2 separate regions of the Homo sapiens genome follow, and region 1 is linked to region 2. Evidence: fine-mapped expression QTL. A gene starts in region 2. The other region holds a variant in brackets. All regions are shown on one strand. Distances are between the middles of the regions.

Region 1 (12,101 bases), 23 kb after region 2:
AAGCAGCTGAGGGGCCAGACTTCAGACAGGCTGGAGACGGTGACCATGGACATCACCAAGACAGAGAGCATTGCTGCAGCTGCCCAGTGGGTGAAGGAGTGTGTGGGGGACAGAGGGACCACCTCAATCCCTCCTAGTGCCTGTTTGTTTCTCTTCTCTCTGTGTCACTAGGGGAGACCTAGTGTCTGCTAACTGGGAACATTTCCAGGACTTTTATTTTCGGGGGCTTGAGCTTTCTGCTTTCCAAAGCAGAAGTCCTAGAGTGGTTGTGGCTGGGCCCAGGGTTAGAGGAGTCCAGGCTGTGGTTAGAGCCCAGTCTCTGGATAACGTTGGGTCCTGACGGTTGGCATGAGACCATCGGGGATGGGGCTGGGCAGGATCCAGGCTTCTGATCTCAGCATTCTCTTACTGGTTCCTTCACACTTGTCCCTGTTGAGGGCTTTAAGATGATCTCCGCTTGATTCACGAGGACACTGGGGCTTGGAGAGCTGAAGGGACTTCACATCAAACACCGAGTGATGAATCCTGTTCCTTTTGGGGAAAGGGAGATCATTGATTGCTTTGTTCTGATTGTAAATGGAAAACATGAAGAAATTATAGAAGAGGATAAGATTGGATAGATAGGAGGATAAGATAGGATTTCTCATTGGAGAAATCATAGAAGAGGATGAGAGTGAAACAACATTCCCCCTAATCCCAGCCTCCAGGGTTAATTTCCCTCTACTTTACACATTCTGGGGTCAGCATTTTCATCATCAAGTTTCTTCCCCAACATAACAATCAAGGTCTCCATATTCCAGCATGTGGAGAGGCCATAATTTGTTAAAGGGATTCTATATTGTTGAATGCCGAAGTTTGTTACCCACTTTTCCTGGCATAAATAACATCTCAGTAGCGATTCTCTACCAAGGTTTGTTGACAGGCTTAGCAGTGCTATTCAAGAAAAGTACAACTATTGAATCAAAGAATCCTCATTCCTTCAAGTCCAGGAAAGGTTTCTGAGTAGGGGAAGGGCCACCATTGCAGGCCTTATTGTTTTTCCAATATTCCTAGGGTCAGTCTCCGTCTCCTGTACCCCCCAGCCCTCACCCACTCACACCCCTGCCCCTGCTGGCCTGGAGTCCGTAGTTCTGTAGCTCTGACTGCTCCAGATCTTTCATGCTATTAGTTTGCTCCCCTATGTCTTCTGTAGAGTCTTCCCCAAAGCTTGCTGGACCCTATGGGGATAGGGCAGAGGTGGCCTTATGAGATGGTGGGAGGAAAAGGTGGTACTTCCTGGGGCAGAGAGTGCAGTCTGGACACCTGTGTGGCATGAGACCTCTTTCCTTCCTCCCCTCCTGCTCTGGCCATTCAGTCCACAGTGAGCTTTGGGACTCCCAGGTACACAAGGTGACCTTTTCTTCCAGGACAGATATTGCCTTGACATTGATGCAGGTTGTAGCACAGCTTGTCCCCTGATGCCCAGTGCAGGCCTGCTCTCTAACTTCCCCCAGTCTTAGGATTTAAGTGTATCTCTCTTAACCAGGATGCAGAAAGCAATTATTTATGTGTTTTTCTTATTCTTTCCTTCCATTTTCCTTTCTCTTCTGTCCTTTCCCCTTGGTTTCTCTGTCTTACCCCATTCCTGTCTTCCTGTTTTCCTGTCTCTGTCTCTCTCCCTTGGAGAGATATTTGTTGGGTCCTGGAGGCATGGGGAGAGCATCTGAGTCCATACAATATACTCTTGTGGCCCTTGGAAGAGTACCCAATAAACTCAGCCTAGGACAACAACAGGGTTTTGGCCCTGACCTAAAAGCTCTGACACCTGAGAGAGGAGCAAGAGAGCCAGAACCATTGTTGCCAGTTCTCATAGGGGTTGTGACCCAGTCAGCCCTGGTGGCCATGGCAGCCTCCTAAGCTGGGGAGGGTCCTGGCAGTGGGATCTGAGCTGGAGATTGAGGATCCCCACCTGGCAGCCTTGAACAGAAATGGGGGAATGACTTTTGTCTTCAGCCCAGACCTAGGGGGAGCCTCAGCTGCCTGCCTGTGCTGTGGGGTCCTCATGAGGTGAAGCACAGGGCCAGGCCTGTGGAGGAGGCTGGGCAGGTGGGTTCATATGGGCTCGTGGAGGCCCTGGACAGGAGCTGTGCCTCATGCTGTTGGCAGTGGAACCCCCAAAGAAGGGATTTGCTCAGGGGAGCTCTTTGGTCTAATCGGCTTCTAGACACCCACTTACTGCAGGGAGCCCAGTGGCTGTGAGTGTGGGGAGCCAGACTGAAGGCAGAGGGACGCTCCTTAGAGGACAGCTGCCATCACCCAGCTCAGAGGCCAGGGAGATTCCTGGGGCAGGAGAAGAAGGGAGGGGACTGAGGACTGCAGAGGAGGTAGAATGTGGGAATTCTGGTGATCCATTGGATGTGAGGGGCATAGGAGGTGATAGCACTGAGATGCTGCCTTGCTCTTGAATTGGTAGGACTTAGGGCTAGTAAGCTTTGGTATGTAAAATATGGAAACCCCAGAGAGAGGCAAGGCCACCATCATAACTTTTATCTGCTATCTGCTGCCCTTCCCAACTCTCCAAGCTTTCTTGCATCTCCCACTGTCGTTGCATGCTGGGTTTGTATTGGGTTTCTTTGTTTTTTGTATTTTGCCTCCCAAAATTTCTTAAGTCCTTGCCCTTCTGCATGTCTGCCATGCAGGAGGGAGCTCTCCCACTTTGGAGTGAAGGTGTCTGTGATTGAACCTGGTCACTTCAGGACCAGTATGGCCGGCTCTGAGAGGCATTTACAGAACCTCAAGGAGCTGTCGGACTAGGCCAGCCCCGAGGTCAAGGAGACGTATGGGGAGAAGTTTCTGATATCCCGTGAGTGAGCTGTGGACAGTGGGGAGATAAAGAAATCCTTGTCTAGAAGTCTGGGTCCATCATTAGTGCCTCCAACAGTATGAGAATCTGTCCTCCAAACTCTGCCTCCCCAAAAAAGTGAGGACATTTATCCCCATTCCCAGGGTGCCATGTGGTCAACTGTTCACCTAAAGGAAGCATCCAAGCTTTCTATAATTGGGACCACTGCCTCATCTGAATCCCTCATTATTTTGAAGAGGAAACTAAAGTCAGAGACAGTGGCTACCAGTGGGCTCATGGGCAGCTGGGTTTAGAGATAGCTGATTTTCATATTCTTAGGCTGTTAGTAGAGACCTTCCATTTATGAGTCCAGATATCTCAAAAAGAGAGGCAGAGGGGGCTTAGAGTGAAACGGATGTTCCTTGGGTGAAGGTTGGGGCACTCTCTGGGGAATATGGATGGATTAGACTTGAGGCATATCATTTGGGGGGCCTGGAATTCTTAGACACTGTCCTCCTAATTCAGAGCTCTAAATGGGAGGGAAGGGATGTGCTAGTACTTTAAGGATCTTTCCTCATCCTTAACATGCATCAGAAAAGCATCTAGAAGGCTTTGGGCAAAATGCAGTACGAATCTATCCTTGTTGACCCACTGCATGGAGCGCTCACTACTCAGCTGGCTGAGACACCAATCTTCTCTACCTCCCCATGAGCGACATGCCTACCTTCCTATGGACGTCACGCTCAACTGGGGCTCTCCAAGGCTGGCTAAGCCCCTGTGAATCCAAGACTGGGGTGCATGGTTGGGTGGAGCTGGGTGATCTGGGTGAGGTGATGTGTCTTGGGGAGAGTAATGGTGTGGTGGGAGGGAGCACTCTTGCCATTTGGATGCCTATCCCAGCTTCTTCCTCATGCCCTCCACAGAATTCCACTGAGATATCACTCAGGACTGGCAACATAGGAGGAAAGAACCAAGGTGTTCTTCTAAAGATTGGGACCCAGTAACGCTCATAGGTGTCCTGTTGCCTTTGAGTCTCTTGGCCAATTCTGAGGAGTCTACACAATGGGAGCGTGTGAGGAGGGGAAGGATCCACAGCCCACACCTTCTCTGCCTCCTGCTTCTTCCCCAGGTGTGCATCAACCTGGCCAGTCTATTACACTCTCTCCATGATGGAAATGGCCTGGAGGAAGTGGATGGGGGCTCCTCTGAATATACCTGTGGATAAGGTGTGGGGCGACAGGGCAGCCATCAGCCTGACCCCTAGACCTCAGGTGCCAGCTCTGGGGGCATTGGCTGGCAGTGGTGTTCTCGATAGGGATTCTGACAGAGGACACAGGAACCAATGTTTGACCCTCTTAAAACCATTGGCTGGCAGTGGTGTTCTCAATAGGGATTCGGACAGAGGACACAGGAACCAATGTTTGACCCTCTTGAAACCATGACCCTCAAAAAACCATCTGGTTACTTTAGTTCTAGAGCAAAAGCTAAAAAGTGCAGCCATGTGCAGCAAGTTGCCTTCTAGTCTGAGGGGAGCATGGGCTGTGAACAAGAGGGAGGAGGAGGCAGGTGCCTTCATGGGGATCTGGGGATAAGAGGGATGAACTCAGGAGGAAATTGAAGAGAGAAGTTGGATTATCCCTGCCCTGTCTCAGCCCTTTCTGCCACCAAGGTGAGGGGCAATTGTTTCCTTTCCAGGAGTGAATCAAGTAGCCTGGGGTCACAGGAGTGCACAGAGGGACAAGGAAGCAATGACATGTCACAAAGGCACTGGCAGGCCTCTTTGTAGCACTTTGTAGCGACCTCTTTGTAGCACTCAGTGACCGGCCCTCACTTTAACATCATTGCACTTGGGAGGGGTGCTGTTTCATGGGGTGAGAAATAGAGTGGTGGGAGGGAGCTCTCAAGTTCAGGGTCATGTACCTCACTTCCCTCACCTCTGTTCTAGTTTTTTTCTGGGACGTTATTCAGGACTCTGGTGATATTAGGAGGAAAGAACCACATTTTGCTGCTTAGGAAGGGAGACCCAATCACAGATAATGGCATCCCACTTCCTTGGGCTCTGAGCTTCATGGCCCACCTGTCAACCTGAAGAATCCACACTTGTGGAAGGTCTTGAGCAACTGGGGGTGGGTGAGCCCACACCTGCTCTTCCTCCTGTCTACCTCATCAGGGTGTGTCTTGGACCTCAGCAGTCTATGCTCTCCCACTGGAGGGAAATGGCCTGGCAGAGGAGAGGGCTCCTCTCCTCTGAGATACCTGTGTGCATGGGGTGGGGATGGGGAGTGCAGCTACCAACCTGACCTATCAGACCTTAGGGGCCAGCTTGGCAAGGAATGCTGTCATCTGAGAGAGGGAGGCATTTCTAGCCCTGGGAAGAAGAGCCTTCTATGTGGTCCTACCTCCCTCACACCCCCCACCCTCATGGACTGTGTGTTTAGTTTGAGGCCAGGGGAACACTGCCAGCATAGAGGCCCAGGAGGTGCTGAGTCAGGCCCAGGCCTGTGCTGGGGCAGTTCTGAGTTATCCTTATGCTAAGTCAGACCCAACTCCTGGACCTCACCTGTGTCCTCAAGGACTGGGATACCCAATGCCCCGGACCTGCTCAGTCTTGAGTGACATGGTCTGACCTGTTTCAGCCAAGACTTCTCTGTTCATTCACCCAGGAGGCAGACAGAGACTGGGAGATTGTTCCCAGATCCCGCATAGGAGGTGCTCTGCCTCAGGTTGGTTATGAAGTAGGTGTGGTTTGCTTTCTACCATTTCCCACCTCCATCCCCTATAAGCTTTAGGTCTGCTCTTTGGGGGTGGGTTCATAATCTGGCCCCCTCCCCTACTTTGTTAAGGAACGGCCAAACCCTGCGGGGCTTTCCCAGGGTGACACCTGCTTTATGTGATTCCACGCTGGTCAGACTTGGCAAATGGTGGATCACAGAGATACATCCTTTGTCCCTTCACACTAGAGAACTTTGTGGTCCCATTTCTGTGTCAGACTCGCTAAGCCATGAAGGTGTGAGCTAGGACCAGGCTCATCCCAAGGAATGGTGACCCTAGATGTTGATCCAAAGAACCACAGAG[G/T]CTCCAGCATCATTCCCTGCATCTTATGCAATTCTGGGTGTGGCCCCTCACTACTCACACCTCTGGTTTCCTTATTTCCTTTCCTTTACCACCTTACCTCTTAGCTTTCTGTAAATTATTTGCTAAATTGCCTAGAATCTCTGTTTCTCCTCCAAGTCCCGACCCTGAGAATTTTCTATGTCTCTGGCCCCAGTTCTCTGCTCCTCCTATATCTCATCCCCTCTTACAGTCAAGGCCTCTGCCCAGACAATTCCCTCAGCTGCCCAGTGAACTCATGATCCCTCCTCATCATCTTGCCCAGGGCTGCTTACTGGTGACCTGAGTATGACCCCCACAGGGTGTCAGGCCTGAGTCCCCCAGGTCTTTCTGCTTTCTGGTGGCTAAGCTTCACATGCCAGCCTCCCCTATAGGAGGGCCCTGCTGCCTCTAGCCTCAGGACAATGGAGGTACATCCACCCTAGGAGAAATCCATTGCTTTTCATCCTCTCTCATGATGGAGACTTACCTAAGAATTCCAGAGAGCTGATGACCTGCGACTTGTTTCTCTTGGGGTTTGGAAGGTACAGAACCAATGTTGTTTGTTTTACATTAATAAATTTGTCTTGAGTATTTTCCCTGAAAATAAACTTATTTACATACCTGCACTCACGACAAATGATTTTGATCCCTGGAGACCAAAATCCCCAGGCTGGGTTGGGGGCAGGGTGGGGACAGGATTTCTAGGGGAGCTGTCTGGGGTGAGTCCTCATCTTTCATTTGCCTGCCTTACACCGCCTGGGTGAGCCACCACTCATCACCAACATTACAAGTGGATTATTTCCAATTCTTGGCAGCTTTACCCATCAGGGCAGGGGGAGAGAGGGAGGCAGCTACCAGGGCTGTCAGAGGTGACAAGGCTTCAGGTTGGACTTGAATTTCTTGCATCTGGGCTAATTGCTGTGGTGATGCATCCACCTATAAAAATTACAGCGTGGCTCACCCAGGGACCTAGATTTGTTGCAAGCTGTGGGAGGAAGGAGAGTTCTTCTTCCAGGTGGTTTCCTGCAGACTGCCTGCTAGGGCTCAGAGGACCAGCTTCTTCCCTGCTGTCTCCTGAGCCCAGTCCCTCTTGGCCATCACATTCCCCTTGCCCTATGGCGGCCCTCACAGACCTCTCATTTATGTATCGCTGGTTCAAGAACTGCAATCTGGTTGGCAACCTCTCAGAGAAGTACGTCTTCATCACAGGCTGTGACTCTGGCTTCGGGAACCTGCTGGCCAAACAGCTGGTTGATCGGGGCATGCAGGTGCTGGCTGCTTGCTTCACTGAGGAGGGATCCCAGAAACTTCAGCGGGATACCTCCTATCGGCTGCAGACCACCCTACTGGATGTCACCAAGAGCGAAAGCATCAAGGCGGCGGCCCAGTGGGTGAGGGACAAAGTGGGCGAACAAGGTGGGGCGAATTACATTCTTTGGCTTTCTTGGTTTCTCCTTCTTCCTCTTCCTCTCTCCCGAAGCATCTGACAGTATCAGAGACCCTGATGTCCAGATTGGGTGGGAGGGGTGATGTAGGGAAAGGCCCCTGCCTCAATCTGATTGGAAGCCACTGCATGGTTTGGCCTGTTCACATGAAGGGGTGATTTCCCAAGGAAGTTTTCTGTCCTGGAAACTCAGAGAAACGGGAAAGAGGTCTCAATAGGAAGCGAGGGGGGAAGATGTGTTCTGTGTGTCCAAACCTCTAAAAATGGACGTGCCTGGCTGGGCGTGGTGGCTCACGCCTATGAGCCCAGCACTTTGGAAGGCCGAAGTGGGAGGATCATGAGGTCAAGAGATCGAGACCATCCCGGCCAACATGGTGAAACCCCATCTCTACTAAAAAGTATAAAAATTACCTGGGTGTGGTGGCACGTGCCTGTAGTCCCAGCTACTCAGGAGGCTGAGGCAGGAGAATCACTTGAACCCGGGAGGCGGAGGTTGCAGTGAGCCAAGATTGCGCCACTGCACTCCAGCCTCGTGACAGAGCAAGAATCCCTCTCAAAAAGAAAAAAAAGAAAAAAAAAGGATGTGCCTCTCTGATGTTTCAGCAGTCCTAACCATCAGCTCCTGGGGAAATACAAACACATTTCTTGTTGGGATCAGGATGGGGGAGGGGGAATGAGACAGGAGGCTGGATCCCATGAGTGGGTGCAGTTTGTCTCCTTGACTATGTCAGGCAGGGGAGAAAGAGATCTGGTCTCTTCTTGACATCATGGTGGGTGTTGATTTGACTTCAGGGCAAGTATGTATGTCACAGTGGCTGCTCCTATTGGGAAAGGAAGCTGTGGACTGGGGCTGGCCCAGGACTGTGTGGGGACCTGCCTCATGCACTTCCAGCACACAGGGTGTGGGCCCAGGAACAGGAGGAACAGGATGGCTGAGTTGCAGAAGCAGCAGACTAGAGGAAGTCCTCCCTCCTAAAGGAACTAGTCTGGAGCCCATGCGCAGGTCAGGGCAACAGAGCCCTGGAGCCAGGGGGATCTAGACAGTAACTCCCTGCTTGATTCTTCTCCTTAGCACTTATCACTAGTCAATGTACAATAGATTTTACTTATTTATTGTCTGTTTCCTCTGCTAGAATAAAGCTTCCTGGGGACAAGGATTTTTGTCCCTTTTATTTACTGTACATCCTTAGTACCTAGAATAATGTCTGGCACCTAGTAAGGTACTGAATAAATAGATTTGAGTGAGCTAATTAATTAATAATTCAGCAAGAGTGAGCCTCTGTCTTCAGCAGGCTGTCTCAGCCAGTTCCCTACATTCAGCCTTGAGCCACTTGCCTTAATACCTCACTTAGCATGTGAGTTTCCTGTTGCTATTGTAACAAATAACACAACTGTGGGGTCTGAAGACAATACAAACATATTATCTTGTAGTTGTGGAGGAGTAATGTCTAAAATAGGCCTCACTGATCTAAAATCAAAGTCAGCAGAGCTGTGTTCCTTCTAGAGGCTGTAGAGGAGAATCCGTCTCATCGACTTTTCCAGCTTCCAGAGGCAGCTGGCATCCCCTGGCTCCTGGCCTGCTACCTCCATCTTCAAGGCCCGCAAGGTTGGGCCCAGTCTTTTTCACACTTTTCTCAAGCTCTCTGATTCTCCGGTTTCTGCCTCTTTCCACTTAGGACTTGTGATTATATTGGGCTCACCAGGTTAATCCAGGATAATTTCCCGTGTTAGCTTCCTCCCTAACTTTAAGGACAATTAATTAGCAACCTCCATTCCACCTGCAACCTTAATTCCCCTTTCCCATGTAATCCAGCAGATTCACAGGTTCCAGAGATAATGAGGATGGGGACATCTTTGGGGGACCATTATTTTGCCTAAGCCACTTGGCAATATCCTGGTCTAAGAAACACTGGGAACTGGGGTGGGTAGGGGGATGGGAGAGGAAGTTCTTTCATGCTTTCTCATTGCTCCTGAATGGAGAAAGGCAGGGAGACTGGGTAGGGGCATGGCTTGGGTGGGGACCCCAGCCCTAGAGGGAGGGGTGGACTAGGATTTATGTTTGTGTTGAGACCTGCCCTCAGGAGACAGTGGGATGCGCCTGCAGAGTATCTTGGGGCTGCTGAGGCTGGGGCTGTGGTGCGAATCACCAGGCAGTAGGACTTGGGGAATCCTTGCATGAAGGAGCTGGAAGGGGTCCTTGAGGAGTGTTTAGAGGGGTTTACAGTAGAACCCCAATATGTAAAACAAATGAAAGGAGAGCTTCTCCTGCATTTTCCTCCCCCTAGAAGGCTTGCAAAATACAGCCTGGAAACAACTGTTTTAGTCTAATCTGATGAAGAGCCTGAGGCCCAGAGAGGGAAGTGACTTGTTCAAGGCTGGAGGTAAAACCAGGACTGGACCTGAAGCTCTTCAACCCTGGGCCCCTGCAGAGTTGAATGACAACACTTAGCATTATTTCTTTCCATTTGTACCAACCTAATTGAAATATCTCAAGGATAGTCCTCATCACATTTTCCATAATTATTTTATTTAAATATTTTATATATTTATTTATAAATATTATTATTTCCTTCTAGGCTTGTGAGTTCCTTGAGGGATAAGATGCTGTGTTGTTCATTTTATGTCTCCTTTGCCCTGTATTTTACTTTATTTTATTTTATATCGTTTTATTTCATTTTATTTTTAGAGACAGAGTCTCACTCTGTCACCCAGGCTGGAGTGCAATGGCACCATTATAGCTCACTGTAACCTCGAACAAGGTAACCTGTAACCCGGGCTCAAGTGATTCTCCCACCTCAGCCTCCCAAGTAGCTAGAACTACAGGCACATACCACCACGCCTGACTAATTTTTTTTCTTTTTTTGTAGAGACAGGGGTCTTACTCTGTTGCTCAGGCTGGTCTCAAACTCCTGGCCTCAAGTGATCCTCCCACCTCAGCCTCTCAAAGGGTTGTGATTACAAGTGTGAGTCACTGCACCTGGCCTCCTTCACCCTGTAATTGTCACAGACTAGATAAATGCATGAATAAATGTGTGAAGATGAATGAATGAATGGATTGATTTTGGTAGTATGTGAAATGCAGTTGGTTATACTTAAGTGAATAGAGAGGGAGAAGTATGATGGGGAAGGGATCTAAACATTAATTCATTGGTATGAAAATGAAACTCTTATCCCAAAGCTGATAGCTGAAATGCTGTCACCTAACACCTCGATTGTAGCTAGTACAGAGCGCCAGCTAGCCGGCAGACTTTATGTGAATCAGGAAAAAGTGTCCCTTCAGGGAAAACGAGTTAGTAAAAGACACACCTTCCTTTTATGTTATAGCCTGACCGAGTTATGTCTTGTGCACCTGCTCAACCATCCTTGAGGGCACTGAGCCGGTGGGGAGCAGAACTTGGTTCTTTCCCAGGCCCACTGATGATTTCTGTGTGGTTCATCTCACCCCCAGGCCTCTGGGCCCTGGTGAACAATGCTGGTGTGGGCCTGCCCAGTGGTCCCAACGAATGGCTGACCAAGGATGACTTTGTGAAGGTGATTAATGTGAACCTGGTGGGACTGATCGAAGTGACCCTTCACATGCTGCCCATGGTCAAGAGAGCCCGGGGCAGGGTTGTCAACATGTCCAGCTCTGGTGGTCGTGTGGCTGTCATTGGTGGTGGCTACTGCGTCTCCAAGTTTGGCGTTGAGGCCTTCTCTGACAGCATAAGGTAACTGGGCCCTGGTACTGAACAATTCTGGGTGAAAATCCCAGAGATTAGAGAGGGTTGGGAGTGACAGCATGTGGGCAGGGGAATTCCGCAGACAGGAAGCTAACACAATAGCAGAAGGAAGGTTAGACCTCAAGGTGCTTTCTCCAAGGACCAAGAGCAGGGATGAGGAGAAGAGGTAGGGTGGAAATACAAGGCATCAGGTGGGCCTTCCCTTGAGCGGCACCAGGGTGAGTGAAACCCTGTTTGGGCCTGTGAGAGGAGGGAGAGTCCCCCAAACAGACAGACAGGCCTGGAGGCACAGGTCCCCTCTGGGAGGTCCTTAGAGGAGCGTGCAGGCCTTGTGTATATCCACACCATTCACCGTGTGGGTGTTGAGTGAGGGGTTGCTAATGGGAGGGACCTGGTGGGAGGCAAGGCTTTGGCCTAGATTCTCTATTGACTTCTTCCCGCTGGTTGTGCCTAATGCAAATTGCCCAGAGACTGTTGGGCCAGTTTTGGAAAGGGCTGAGTCCCTAAGGAAGGGCTTATTTGCACAAAGGCAATGCCAGGGCCAAGTACAGGGGTGAGAGAAGCATCTCTAGGTTCCTGAAAGACCAGCCCATCCAGAGGTGACTCTCCGTGATGATTGTCATCTTGGGGCCCAGACTGACTGCAACTCTTCTTTCCCAGGCGTGAGCTCTACTACTTTGGGGTGAAAGTCTGCATCATTGAGCCAGGGAACTATCGGACAGCCATTCTCGGCAAGGAGAACCTGGAGTCACGCATGCGAAAGCTTTGGGAGAGGCTGCCTCAGGAGACCCGGGACAGCTACGGAGAGGATTATTTCCGCATCTGTAAGTTCCTGGGGCAGGAGAGGGGTCTCTGAGGGGGGCGAGTGGGTCTTGGGGTCATTAGCTGGCTTTCCGTTTACAGATGGTGAGACAAAATGCAGAGGAGTTCAGGACCCAAGGTCACATAGTGGCACAGCTGGGGTTTGAGAATAGAGAGCAAGTGGCAGAATCATCACTTCTGGAGCAGCCCGGGGAGTTAAGGG
Region 2 (12,101 bases):
GCCACATTTTCTTAATCCAGTCTATCATTGTTGGACATTTGGGTTGGTTCCAAGTCTTTGCTATTGTGAATAGTGCCGCAATAAACATACATGTGCATGTGTCTTTATAGCAGCATGATTTATAGTCATTTGGGTATATACCCAGTAATGGGATGGCTGGGTCAAATGGTATTTCTAGTTCTAGATCCCTGAGGAATCGCCACACTGACTTCCACAATGGTTGAACTAGTTTACAGTCCCACCAACAGTGTAAAAGTGTTCCTATTTCTCCACATCCTCTCCAGCACCTGTTGTTTCCTGACTTTTTAATGATTGCCATTCTAACTGGTGTGAGATGATATCTCATAGTGGTTTTGATTTGCATGCTGCCTTCAAGCATCTGTTTAACAAAGCACATCTTGCACGGCCCTTAATCCATTTAACCCTGAGTGGACACAGCACATGTTTCAGAGAGCACAGGGTTGGGGGTAAGGTCACAGATCAACAGGATAAGAATTTTTCTTAGTACAGAACAAAATGAAAAGTCTCCCATGTCTACCTCTTTCTACACAGACATGGCAACCATCCGATTTCTCAATCTTTTCCCCACCTTTCCCCACTTTCCATTCCACAAAACCGCCATTGTCATCATGGCCCGTTCCCAATGAGCTGTTGGGTACACCTCCCAGACGGGGTGGTGGCCGGGCAGAGGGGCTCCTCACTTCCCAGTAGGGGCGGCCAGGCAGAGGCACCCCTCACCTCCCAGATGGGGCGGCTGGCCGGGCGGGGGGCTGACCCCCCCACCTCCCTCCCAGACGGGGCGGCTGGCTGGGCGGGGGGCTGACCCCCCCACCTCCCTCCCGGACGGGGCGGCTGGCCGGGCGGGGGGCTGACCCCCCCACCTCCCTCCTGGACGGGGCGGCTGGCCTGGCGGGGGCTGACCCCCACCTCCCTCCCGGTCGGGGTGGCTGCCAGGCGGAGACGCTCCTCACTTCCCAGACAGGGTGGCTGCCAGGCGGAGGGGCTCCTCACTTCTCAGACAGGGTGGCTGCCAGGCGGAGGGGCTCCTCACTTCTCAGACGGGGCGGTTGCCAGGCGGAGGGTCTCCTCACTTCTCAGACGGGGCGGCCGGGCAGAGACGCTCCTCACCTCCCAGACGGGGTTGCGGCCGGGTAGAGGCGCTCCTCACATCCCAGACGGGGCGGCAGGGCAGAGGCGCTCCCCACATCTCAGACGATGGGCGGCCGGGCAGAGACGCTCCTCACTTCCTAGATGGGATGGCGGCCGGGAAGAGGGGCTCCTCACTTCCTAGATGGGATGGCGGCTGGGCAGAGACGCTCCTCACTTTCCAGACTGGGCAGCCAGGCAGAGGGGCTCCTCACGTCCCAGACTATGGGCGGCCAGGCAGAGACGCTCCTCACTTCCCAGATGGGGTGGTGGCCGGGCAGAGGCTGCAATCTCAGCACTTTGGGAGGCCAAGGCAGGCGGCTGGGAGGTGGAGGTTGTAGCGAGCCGAGATCACGCCACTGCACTCCAGCCTGGGCACCATTGAGCACTGAGTGAACTAGACTCCGTCTGCAATCCCGGCACCTTGGGAGGCCGAGGCTGGCGGATCACTCGCGGTTAGGAGCTGGAGACCAGCCCGGCCAACACAGTGAAACCCCGTCTCCACCAAAAAAATACAAAAACCAGTCAGGCGTGGCGGCGCGCGCCTGCAATCGCAGGCACTGGGCAGGCTGAGGCAGGAGAATCAGGCAGGGAGGTTGCAGTGAGCCGAGATGGCAGCAGTACAGTCCAGCTTCCGCTCGGCATCAGAGGGAGACAGTGGAAAGAGAGGGAGAGGGAGACCGTGGGGAGAGGGAGACGGAGAGGGAGAGGGAGAGGGAGAGCTGGCCATTTTCATGATATTGATTTTTCATATCCATGACCATGGAATGTTCTTCCTTTGTTTGTGTCCTCTTTTATTTCATTGAGCAGTGGTTTGTTGTTCTTCTTGAAGAAGTCCTTCACATCCCTTGTAAGTTGGATTCCTAGGTATTTTATTCTCTTTGAAGTAATTGTAAATGGGAGTTTACTCATGATTGGGCTCTCTGTTTGCCTGCTATTGGCGTATAGGAATGCTTGAGATTTTTGCACATTGATTTTGTATCCTGAGACTTTCCTGAAGTTGCTTATCAGTTTAAGGACGTTTTGGGCTGACGATGGGGTTTTCTAAATATACAATCATGTCATCTGCAAACAGGGACAATTTGACTTCCTCTTTTCCTAATTGGATGCCCTTTATTTCTTCCTCTTGCCTGATTGCCCTGGCCAGAACTTCCAACACTATGTTGAATAGGAGAGGTGAGAGAGGGCATCCTGTCTTGTACCAGTTTTCAAAGGGAAGGCTTCCAGTTTTTGCCCATTCAGTATGATATTGGCTGTGGATTTGTCATAAATCGCTCTTATTATTTTGAGATATGTTTCATCAATACCTAGTTTGTTGGGAGTTTTTAGCATGAAGTGCTGTTGAATTTTGTCAAAGGCCTTTTCTGCATCTATTGAGATAATCATGTGGTTTTTGTCATTGGTTCTGTTTATGTGATGGATTATGTGTATTGATTTGTGTATGTTGAACCAGCCTTGCATCCCAGGGATGAAGCCAGCTTGATCATGGTGGATAAGCTTTTTGATGTGCTGCTGGATTTGGTTTGCCAGTATTTTATTGAGGATTTTTGCATCGATATTCATCAGGGATATTGGTCTAAAATTCTCTTTTTTGTTGTTGTGTCTCTGCCAGGCTTTGGTATCAGGATGATGCTGGCCTCATAAAATGAGTTAGGGAGGATTACTTCTTTTTCTATTCATTGGAATAATTTCAGAAGGGATGGTACCAGCTCCTCTTTGTACCTCTAGTAGAATTGGGCTGTGAATCCATCTGGTCCAGGACTTTTTTTGGTTGATAGGCTATTAATTATTGCCTCAATTTCAGAGCCTGTTATTGGTCTATTCAGAGATTCCACTTCTTTCTGGTTTAGTCTTGGGAGGGTGTATGTGTCCAGGAATTTATCCATTTCTTCTAGATTTTCTGGTTTATTTGTATAGAGGTATTTATAGTATTCTCTGATGGTAGTTTGTATTTCTGTGGGATCAGTGGTGAAATCCCCTTTATCATTTTTTATTGTGTCTATTTGATTCTTCTCTCTTTTCTTCTTTATTAGTCTTGCTAGTGGTCTATCCATTTTTTTTGACCTTTTCAAAAAACCAGCTCCTGGATTCATTGATTTTTTGAAGGGTTTTCTGTGTCTCTATCTCCTTCAGTTCTGCTCTTAGTTATTTCTTGCCTTCTGTTAGCTTTTGAATTTGTTTGTTCTCGCTTCTCTAGTTCTTTTCATTGTGATGTTAGGGTGTCGATTTCTTGTCTTTCCTGCTTTCTCTTGTGGGCATTTAGTGCTATAAATTTCCTTCTACACACTGCTGTAAATGTGTCCCAGAGATTCTGGTACATTGTGTCTTTGTTCTCATTGGTTTCAAAGAACATCTTTATTTCTGCCTTCATTTCGTTATGTACCCAGTAGTGATTCAGAAGCAGGTTGTTTAGTTTCCATGTCGTTGTGTGGTTTTGAGTGAGTTTCTTAGTCCTGAGTTCTAATTTGATTGCAGTGTGGTCTGAGAGACAGTTTGTTGTGATTTCTGTTCTTTTACATTTGGTGAGGAGTGCTTTACTTCCAACTATGTGGTCAATTTTGGAATAAGTGTGATGTGGTGCTGAGAAGAATGTATATTCTGTTGATTTGGGGTGGAGAGTTCTGTAGATGTCTATTAGGTCCGCTTGGTGCAGAGCTGAGTTCAAGTCCTGGATATCCTTTTTAACCTTCTGTCTCATTGATCTGTCTAATATTGACAGTGGAGTGTTAAAATCTCCCATTATTATTGGGGAGTCTAAGTCTCTTTGTAGGTTTCTAAGGACTTGCTTTATGAATCTGGGTGCTCCTGTATTGGGTACATATATATTTAGGATAGTTAGCTCTTCTTGTTGAATTGATCCCTTTACTGTTATGTAATGGCCTTCTTTGTCTCTTTTGATCTTTGGTGGTTTAAAATCTGTGTTATCAGAGAGTAGGATTGCAATCCCTGCTTTTTTTTTCTTTTTTTGCTTTCTATTTGCTTGGTGGATCTTCCTCCATCCCTTTATTTTGAGCCTATGTGTGTCTCTGCATGTGAGATGGGTTTCCTGAATACAGCACACTGATGGGTCTTGATTCTTTATCTAATTTGCCAGTCTGTGTCTTTTAATTGGGGCATTTAGCCCTTTTACATTTAAGGTTAATATTGTTATGTGTGAATTTGATCCTGTCATTATGATGTTAGCTGGTTATTTTGCTCGTTAGTTGATGCAGTTTCTTCCTAGCATCAATGGTCTTTACAATTTGGCATGTTTTTGCAGTGGCTGGTACTGGTTGTTTCTTTCCATGTTTAGTGCTTCCTTCAGGAGCTCTTGTAAGGCAGGCCTGGCGGTGACAAAATCTCTCAGCATTAGTTTGTCTGTAAAGAATTTTATTTCTCCTTCACTTATGAAGCTTAGTTTGGCTGGATATGAAATTCTGAGTTGAAAATTCTTTTCTCTAAGAATGTTGAACATTGGCCCCCACTCTCTTCTGGCTTGTAGAGTTTCTGCTGAGAGATCCACTGTTAGTTTGATGGGCTTCCCTTTGTAGGTAACCTGACCTTTCTCTCTGGCTGCCCTTAACATTTTTTCCTTCATTTCAACCTTCGTGAATATGACAATTATATGTCTTAGGGTTCCTCTTCTTGAAGAGTATCTTTGTGGTGTTCTCTGTATTTCCCAAATTTGAATGTTGGCCTGCCTTGCTAGATTGGGGAAGTTCTCCTGGATAATAACCTGAAGAGTATTTTCCAACTTGGTTTCATTCTGCCCGTCACTTTCAGGTACAGCAGTCAAACGTAGGTTTGGTTTTTTCACATAGTTCCATATTTCTTGGAGGCTTTGTTCACTTCTTTTTCTCTTTTTTCTCCAAACTTCTCTTCTCACTTTATTTCATTAATTTGATCTCCAATCACTGATATTCTTTCTTCCACTTGAGCAAATTGGCTATTGAAGCTTATGCATGCATCCTGTAGTTCTCATGCCATGGTTTTCGGCTCCATCAGGTCATTTAAGGACTTATCTACACTGTTTATTCTAGTTAGCCATTCATCTAATCTTTTTTTCAAGACTGTTAGCTTCCTTGTGATGGGTTCCAACATCCTCCTTTAGCTCAGAGAATTTTGTTACTCTGACCTTCTGAAGCCTACTTCTGTCAACTCATCAAAGTCATTCTTCATCCAGCTTTTTTCTGTTGCTGGCAAGGAGCTGTGATCCTTTGGAGGAGAAGAGGCACTCTGGTTTTTTGAATTTTCAGATTTTCTGCTCTGGTATCTCCCCATCTTTGTGGTTTTATCTACCTTTGGTGTTTGATGTTGGCGACCTACAGATGGGGTTTTGGTGTGGATGTCCTTTTTGTTGATTTTGAGCTATTTCTTTCTGTTTGTTAGTTTTCCTTCAAACAGTTTCCTCAGCTGCAGGTCTGTTGGAGTTTGCTGGAGGTCCACTCCAGTCCCTGTTTGCCTGGGTATCACCAGCAGAGGCTGCAGAACAGCAAATATTGCAGAACAGCAAATATTGTTGCCTGATCCTTCCTCTGGAAACTTCGTCCCAGAGGGGCACCCACCTGTATGAGATGTCAGTCGGCCCCTACTGGGAGGTGTCTCCCAGTTAGTCTACACAGGGTTCAGGGACCCATTTGAGAAGGCAGTCTGTCTGTTCTAAGAGCTCAAACACCATGCTGGGAGAACCACTGCTCTCTTCAGTGCTGTCAGACAGGGATGTTTAAGTCTGCAGAGGTTTCTGCTGCCTTTTGTTCAGTTATGCACTGCTCCCAGAGGTGGAGTCTATAGAGGCAGAAAGCCTTGCCTTGCTGCAGTGGGCTTCGCCCAGTTTGAGCTGCCCAGCTGCTTTGCTTTCCTACTCAAGCCTCAGCAATGGTGAGCAACCCTCCTCCTGCCAGGCTGCTGCCTTGCAGGTTGATCTCAGACTACTGCACTAGCAGTGAGCAAAGCTCTGTGGGAATGGGACCCACCAAACCAGGCACAGGATATAATCTCCTGGTGTGCCATTTGCTAAGACCATTGGAAAAGTGCAGTATTTGAGCAGGAGTGTCTTGTTTTTCCAGGTACAGTCTGTCACGGCTTCCCTTGTCTAGGAAAGGGAAATCCCCTGACCTCTTACACTTCCTGGGTAAGGCAATGCCCTGCCTTGCTTCGGCTCACCCTCTGTGGGCTGCACGCACTGTCCAACCAGTCCCAGTGAGATGAACCAGGTACCTCAGCTGGAAATGCAGAAATCACCCATTTTCTGCATCAGTCACACTGGGAGCTGCAGACCGGAGCTGTTCCTATTTGCCCATCCTCTCCCTGCTTTCTTTACCTCTGAGGTTGGATTCTCCCTGTGGGATCCTGCAATCCTTCTGCCCCAAAAAACTATTATAGCAGGAGGGAACCTGTTCCTGCTCACTCTTTGCCTTCTCCTTCTCATCCTAGACAGCCTGACCGTGCCCTAGTTTTCAGAGGAGTGATTGATTCTGGGGTGCGGAGCAGGATGAGGAAACTCAGGCTCAGAGAGGGATTTCCACCTAATGTGCCTGGAAACCATGGGTAGCTACCCAATAAGGCCTTTCTATGTTCAGAAGGTCATGGACCAGGAGTGTTGGTATCGGAGCTTTGTAGAGACAGTTTTGACCCCTGTACTTAGAGCAGAGGGGTGTGTTTGCCATGGAGAGTGTGTGTGGGCAGCTGTGTGTAAGCCTGTGTGAGTTCTGTGTATGTTCCTGTGTGAATATATGTGTGTGCTCCTTCATGGACACAGCATGCATGTAGTGGGCATAGCAAGGCAGAGAGAAATCAGGAGACTAGGGGCACATTGCCCAGTAGGAAGATAGTATCTTCCTACTGGGCAGGACTTGAGGTGTGCAAAGGTGTGCATGAGTACTGCAAAAGCAGTTCAAAGAGCAGAGAGGTGGGGCCAGAATAAATATGTTGCAGAAAGGCAGTCATCAGGGAGGAAAGTGAGGATTCCCTGCCAAAATGCCTGAGGGCTTCCCTGCCTACCACAGCCCTCTGTGTTCTTAAATCCTCCTGTCTGAACAGAGGCCAGACTCTGGTTTCCCCCACAGCCTGTCTGTGTCTGTCCTCTGCAAAGCCATGTGGCTCTACCTGGCGGTTTTCGTGGGCCTGTACTACCTTCTGCACTGGTACCGGGAGAGGCAGGTGCTGAGCCACCTGAGAGATAAGTATGTGTTCATCACGGGCTGTGACTCTGGCTTCGGGAAACTGCTGGCCAGACAGCTGGATGCACGAGGCTTGCGGGTGCTGGCTGCATGTCTGACGGAGAAAGGAGCCGAGCAGCTGAGGGGCCAGACTTCAGACAGGCTGGAGACGGTGACCCTGGATGTTACCAAGACAGAGAGCGTTGCTGCAGCCGCCCAGTGGGTGAAGGAGTGCGTGAGAGACAAAGGTAACCACCCAGGTTTGTCAAGTCTGTCTGTGTCTTCCCTCTGTGTGAAGGGACCACCTCCTGTCTGCTCCCTGGGAAGATTCCTACAGTGTCTTTCCAGGTTGAAGTAACAGTAGCTTTCTAATATTTCTCACTTAACAGGCTGCCTGAACCCCATCTCTTTTCAATCCTTAACCTCTCCCGACATTGGAGGTGTCTAGTCTTGGGGAGAGTTTGCCCTGATGAGATTTTCTCTCCAGAATTCCTCTCTATCCTCTCCCTCCTGTCTAAGCAGAAGTCATGTGTTGTTTGATGCTAAGAGCCTGGGTTAGAGATCTGGAGACTTGCTGGAGCATCGTTGAGAAGGGAGCACAGGGCTGCAAGTGTGCACGGAGGCTGTGCCTGTGCTGGAGCCAGGCTTATGTTCCCAGCACTTTACCTTGTTTTTGCTAGGGCCCATCAGCGTCCACTGAGAGCTACGATCATCTCCATCTTCAGAGGAGAGTATCAGCTTAAGGACTGCTTAAGGAAGGCAGAACTAGTAAGGGGTTACTTTTTCTTTCTTTCTTCTTTTCACTACACTAATTCATCTGTCTTATTATAGAGGAAGAAAGAAACATGGATTTATTTTATGTAACAATAAATCAGAATATGATCTTTGTGGAAAACACTGAAAAGAATAAAGATGAAAACAAGTTTCCCTGAAATTGTCATCCACACATAAGTCCTTTTTACAATTATACAAAATTAGGATTTTATATTTTGTTCTTAGTTTCAGTCACCTTAAATTCTCTGGAGAAGATGAACACTTTTCCACCATAATGACTGTTTTTATAAAATTATATTTAATTATTTAGAATACTGTATCCTTCCAATAGCCTTACCTATGTAATCCATACTGAGTGGTTGGATATGAAATTCCTTCCTGCTTTTTATTCATCATAAATGTCATCTTGGTGGACTTTTATTTGCCAACGTCTCTGTAAGTGTGAGTATTGATTGGATTCTTAAAAATGAGATGTCTGGGTGGAGGAATCTGCATTTGCATCAGGGCAGGGCCTGTTATTGAGCAGGGGACAGGTTCATATGCCTGGGCCAACCCTTCCAGATCAACAACTGCCACCCCCTGCCTGGACTCAAGGGACCCTGTGCTCCTGCCCCCTAGCTCTGTGGGTTGAAAACTCTATTGACTTGAAGTCCTGGGGATTGTGTATTTGCATCTTCCAGAGAGATTTTCCCAGAGCTGGGTGAACTTGGGACTAAAGGGAAGGATGAAGAGTGGGCTTCTGATGCAGTAGGAGGAGAGGGTGACATTTTCTGGGGCAGAGGGTGGAGTCTGTGTACTGAGTGGGGTGACGCAACCTTGCTTTCTTCCCAAAGCCTGTGCATTGGAATTCCCCTGTGCTTTCTATAAAAATGTTACTGATGCAGGATGTTTCAAGACCAGTGCCCTGAGTTCAAACACTTGGGAAACAGGATGTTTCCCAAGTTCCCCCAAGCCTAGGATTTCAGGTCTGTCTCTTTCTCTCTTTCCTGTCTCCCTCACTCTCCCTCTTTCTTGTCTCTTATTCCATCAACAGATAGTTGCTGGACAATCACTATATAAGGTGTTAGCACACCTGAAAATGCAGCTGTATGTCTGTAATGTCTGCAACATTCATGTTTAACTAACCAAACATTGGTCTTCATGTTTCCAGACTAATGCATGGACAATAGTTCTTTAACATGATTTCATGCAGTCCTTAAATAGGGGTAATAGCTTATTGTCTTTCAGGCAGTAGGCTGGTCCATGAAGAGTAAATGGAGAAAGACCTGGGTTTTGTGGCCCACCAGCTGCTGAATGCTCAGCCCCCACCCCTGTGATACTGTGGTGTTTGTTATACCCTCCTCCCCATCCCACACCTGTCAGTCTGCCCTCACTTTATTGGGATGTGATTTGCACCCTAACTCTGTCCACCTGCACAGGCACAACACAGTGATGCTCTCTCATCTTCCCACTGTCCCAGGACTCTGGGGCCTGGTGAATAATGCTGGCATCTCCTTGCCCACGGCTCCCAATGAGTTGCTCACCAAGCAGGACTTCGTGACCATACTGGACGTGAACTTGTTGGGGGTGATTGATGTGACTCTGAGCCTGCTGCCCTTAGTGAGGAGGGCCAGGGGCCGTGTGGTCAACGTCTCCAGTGTCATGGGCCGGGTGTCACTTTTTGGTGGAGGCTACTGCATCTCCAAGTATGGCGTGGAAGCCTTCTCTGACTCCCTCAGGTATGGGTCTGGGATGGGGCCCACCCTAGTCTTCCTGCTCCTGTCCTTGTGGGGAAGTCTTTTCCAGGGAGTTCCTTGAATCCCAGCCTGTAAGTTCCTTTCATGAGATCACTCTCTGTCTTCATGTGTGACACCCTCATCTTCCTCTTTCTGGATTGGGCTGGCCATTCACTGGGAAGCACCTTCCTGAGTGCTGGGCGACAGGAGGGGCCCCAGGTCAGAGAGTTTCTTGAACGATACCTCTTCCCTGGATGGATCTCTTGGTCAGAAACTGCCAGAGGCAGAATTGGACCTGGATCTTTGGCTTCAGATCCTACCAAGAGGAACACAGTACTGAGGTTACCAAGCCCAGGACAGGGGAACACTGTGTATCAATGACTAATCCCAGGGAAGGACCCTAAACACTTCTTCCCATTGCACCTTGGTATTGGAGCCACAAAGGCAGACCAGGCAGTCAGTGCTGGATGGAAGAATGCTTTGCACCCTAGAGAAGGAGCAGAGAAAGATCAGCTACAGCAGTGTGTGTTGGTCCCCTAGCCAGGGAGGCTCTCCCAGCAGCTGACACTGGGCATGTGGCTTGCTAACACCCCTCTCTTGCTGTAGTAGAAGGACCCCAACCCCTCCTCCCAGGAATCTGAAATACTTGTAAACCTGGGGCATGCCTTAGGGCCGCGGACACACACAAGCTCATGCAGACGCAAGAGCACTCACTGAGTCAGAAACAGGGAAAGATATTTCCACACCAGGAGATGGGTGCCTGGCTCTGGGGCTCTTCCTCTCTAGGGAGAGAAATGCTTCAAGCCCTGAGGCCATTCCTTCATGGCTCTCTGGGGCCCAAAGACAGCATGCAGGAGATGGTCTTTCCCAGCAGAATTCATATCCAGAGCCCCTTTGACGATGGGTAGAGCATCTGAGTCCACACAACAGACACTTTAGGCCCTTGTCCAAGTGGCCAAAAATCCATCCTTAACAACAAGGTTTTGTCTGTGACTTAAAACTTGATACCTGGGAGAGGGACAAGAGATATAGAATCAAGTGCCAATGCTTATAAGGTTGGTGACCAAGTCAACCTTGCTGGCCATGGTACCCACCTGAGTTGAGGAGAGTCCTGGAGATTCCATCTGAGCTGGGGATTGAAAACTCAAGCTGGGGATTGAGAACTCCACCTGGCAGCCTGGTAAGGAAGACTGGGAAAGGCTCCTAGATGAAGGAATGCCATCAGCCCAGGCCCAGAGTGAGCATTAGCCACCTGCATGTACTGCAGAATCCTCTTGTGGTGAAGGTCAAGGCCAAGCCTGGTGGGGGATGCTGGGCAGGTGGTCATAGGTGGGCTCCTTGAGGGCCTGTGGGCCCTGGACAGGAGTTGTGGCTTATGCTGTTGGCAGTGGAACCCCCTCCAGAAAAGGGATTTGCTCAGGGGAGCTCCTTGGTCCAGTCAGCTTCTAGACTCCCACTGACTGCAGGAAGCCCAGTGGTTGTAAGTGTGGGGAGCCAGACTGAAGACAGATGCTTCTTAGAGGACAGCTGCCATCACCCAGCTCAGAGGCCAGGGAGATTCCTGGGGCAGGAAAACGAGGGAGGGGACTGAGGACTGGAGAGGAGGCAAAATGTGGGAATTCTGGTGATCCACTGGATGTGAGGGACATAGGAGGAGACAGCACTAAGGTGCTGCCTTGCTTTGGAATTGGTAGGATTTAGGGCTAGTAAGCTCAGGTGTGTAAAATATGGAAACTCCATACAGAGGGAATGCCACCATGATAATTATGACCCCTTGATTGCTGGAAATTAAATATTCCAAGCTTTCTATTTTACCCATTGTCCTCATATGTTGTGATATCATAGTTTTACTTTTATTGTTTGTGTTTTACCTTCCAAGACCCCCGAAGTTTTTCCCCTCTGCTTCTCTGTCTTGCAGGAGGGAACTCTCCTACTTTGGGGTGAAGGTGGCTATGATTGAACCTGGCTATTTCAAGACTGCTGTGACCAGTAAGGAGAGATTCTTAAAGAGCTTCCTGGAGATTTGGGACCGGTCCAGTCCAGAGGTCAAGGAGGCCTATGGCGAGAAGTTTGTTGCAGACTGTGAGTAAGCTGTGGACAGTGGGGAGAGAAGCAAACCCTCGTGTGGAATCCTTGGTCTACCATTGGTGTCTGAAGGGCATTAGAGTTTGATCCCCAGGCTCTCCCTTCCCCACAGAGTGGAGACCTTTAGCCCCATTTCCATGATGGGTGCTGTGTGGTCAACTGGTCATGAAAAGCAAGTGTCCAGGCTTCTCAGAACTTGGGACCAGTGTCTATCTGAACCCATCGTTACTGAGGAACAAAGGGA

Evidence for each region. PIP is the estimated chance that this variant, and not a neighbour inherited with it, causes the effect.
Region 1: its variant is fine-mapped to the expression of RDH16 in whole blood (TOPMed, PIP 0.98).

The regions. Positions count from the first base shown.
Region 1 is chr12:56,929,190-56,941,290 of GRCh38, reverse strand. SDR9C7 (short chain dehydrogenase/reductase family 9C member 7) reads left to right here and starts at 6,883. Exons shown (of 4, transcript NM_148897.3): 1 at 6,883-7,330; 2 at 10,807-11,065; 3 at 11,738-11,901. The coding sequence starts at 7,030. It also overlaps the pseudogene LOC100420982. The variant G/T (reference allele first, on the strand shown) is at 5,897.
Region 2 is chr12:56,952,580-56,964,680 of GRCh38, reverse strand. RDH16 (retinol dehydrogenase 16) reads left to right here and starts at 7,073. Exons shown (of 4, transcript NM_003708.5): 1 at 7,073-7,531; 2 at 9,517-9,775; 3 at 11,691-11,854. The coding sequence starts at 7,219.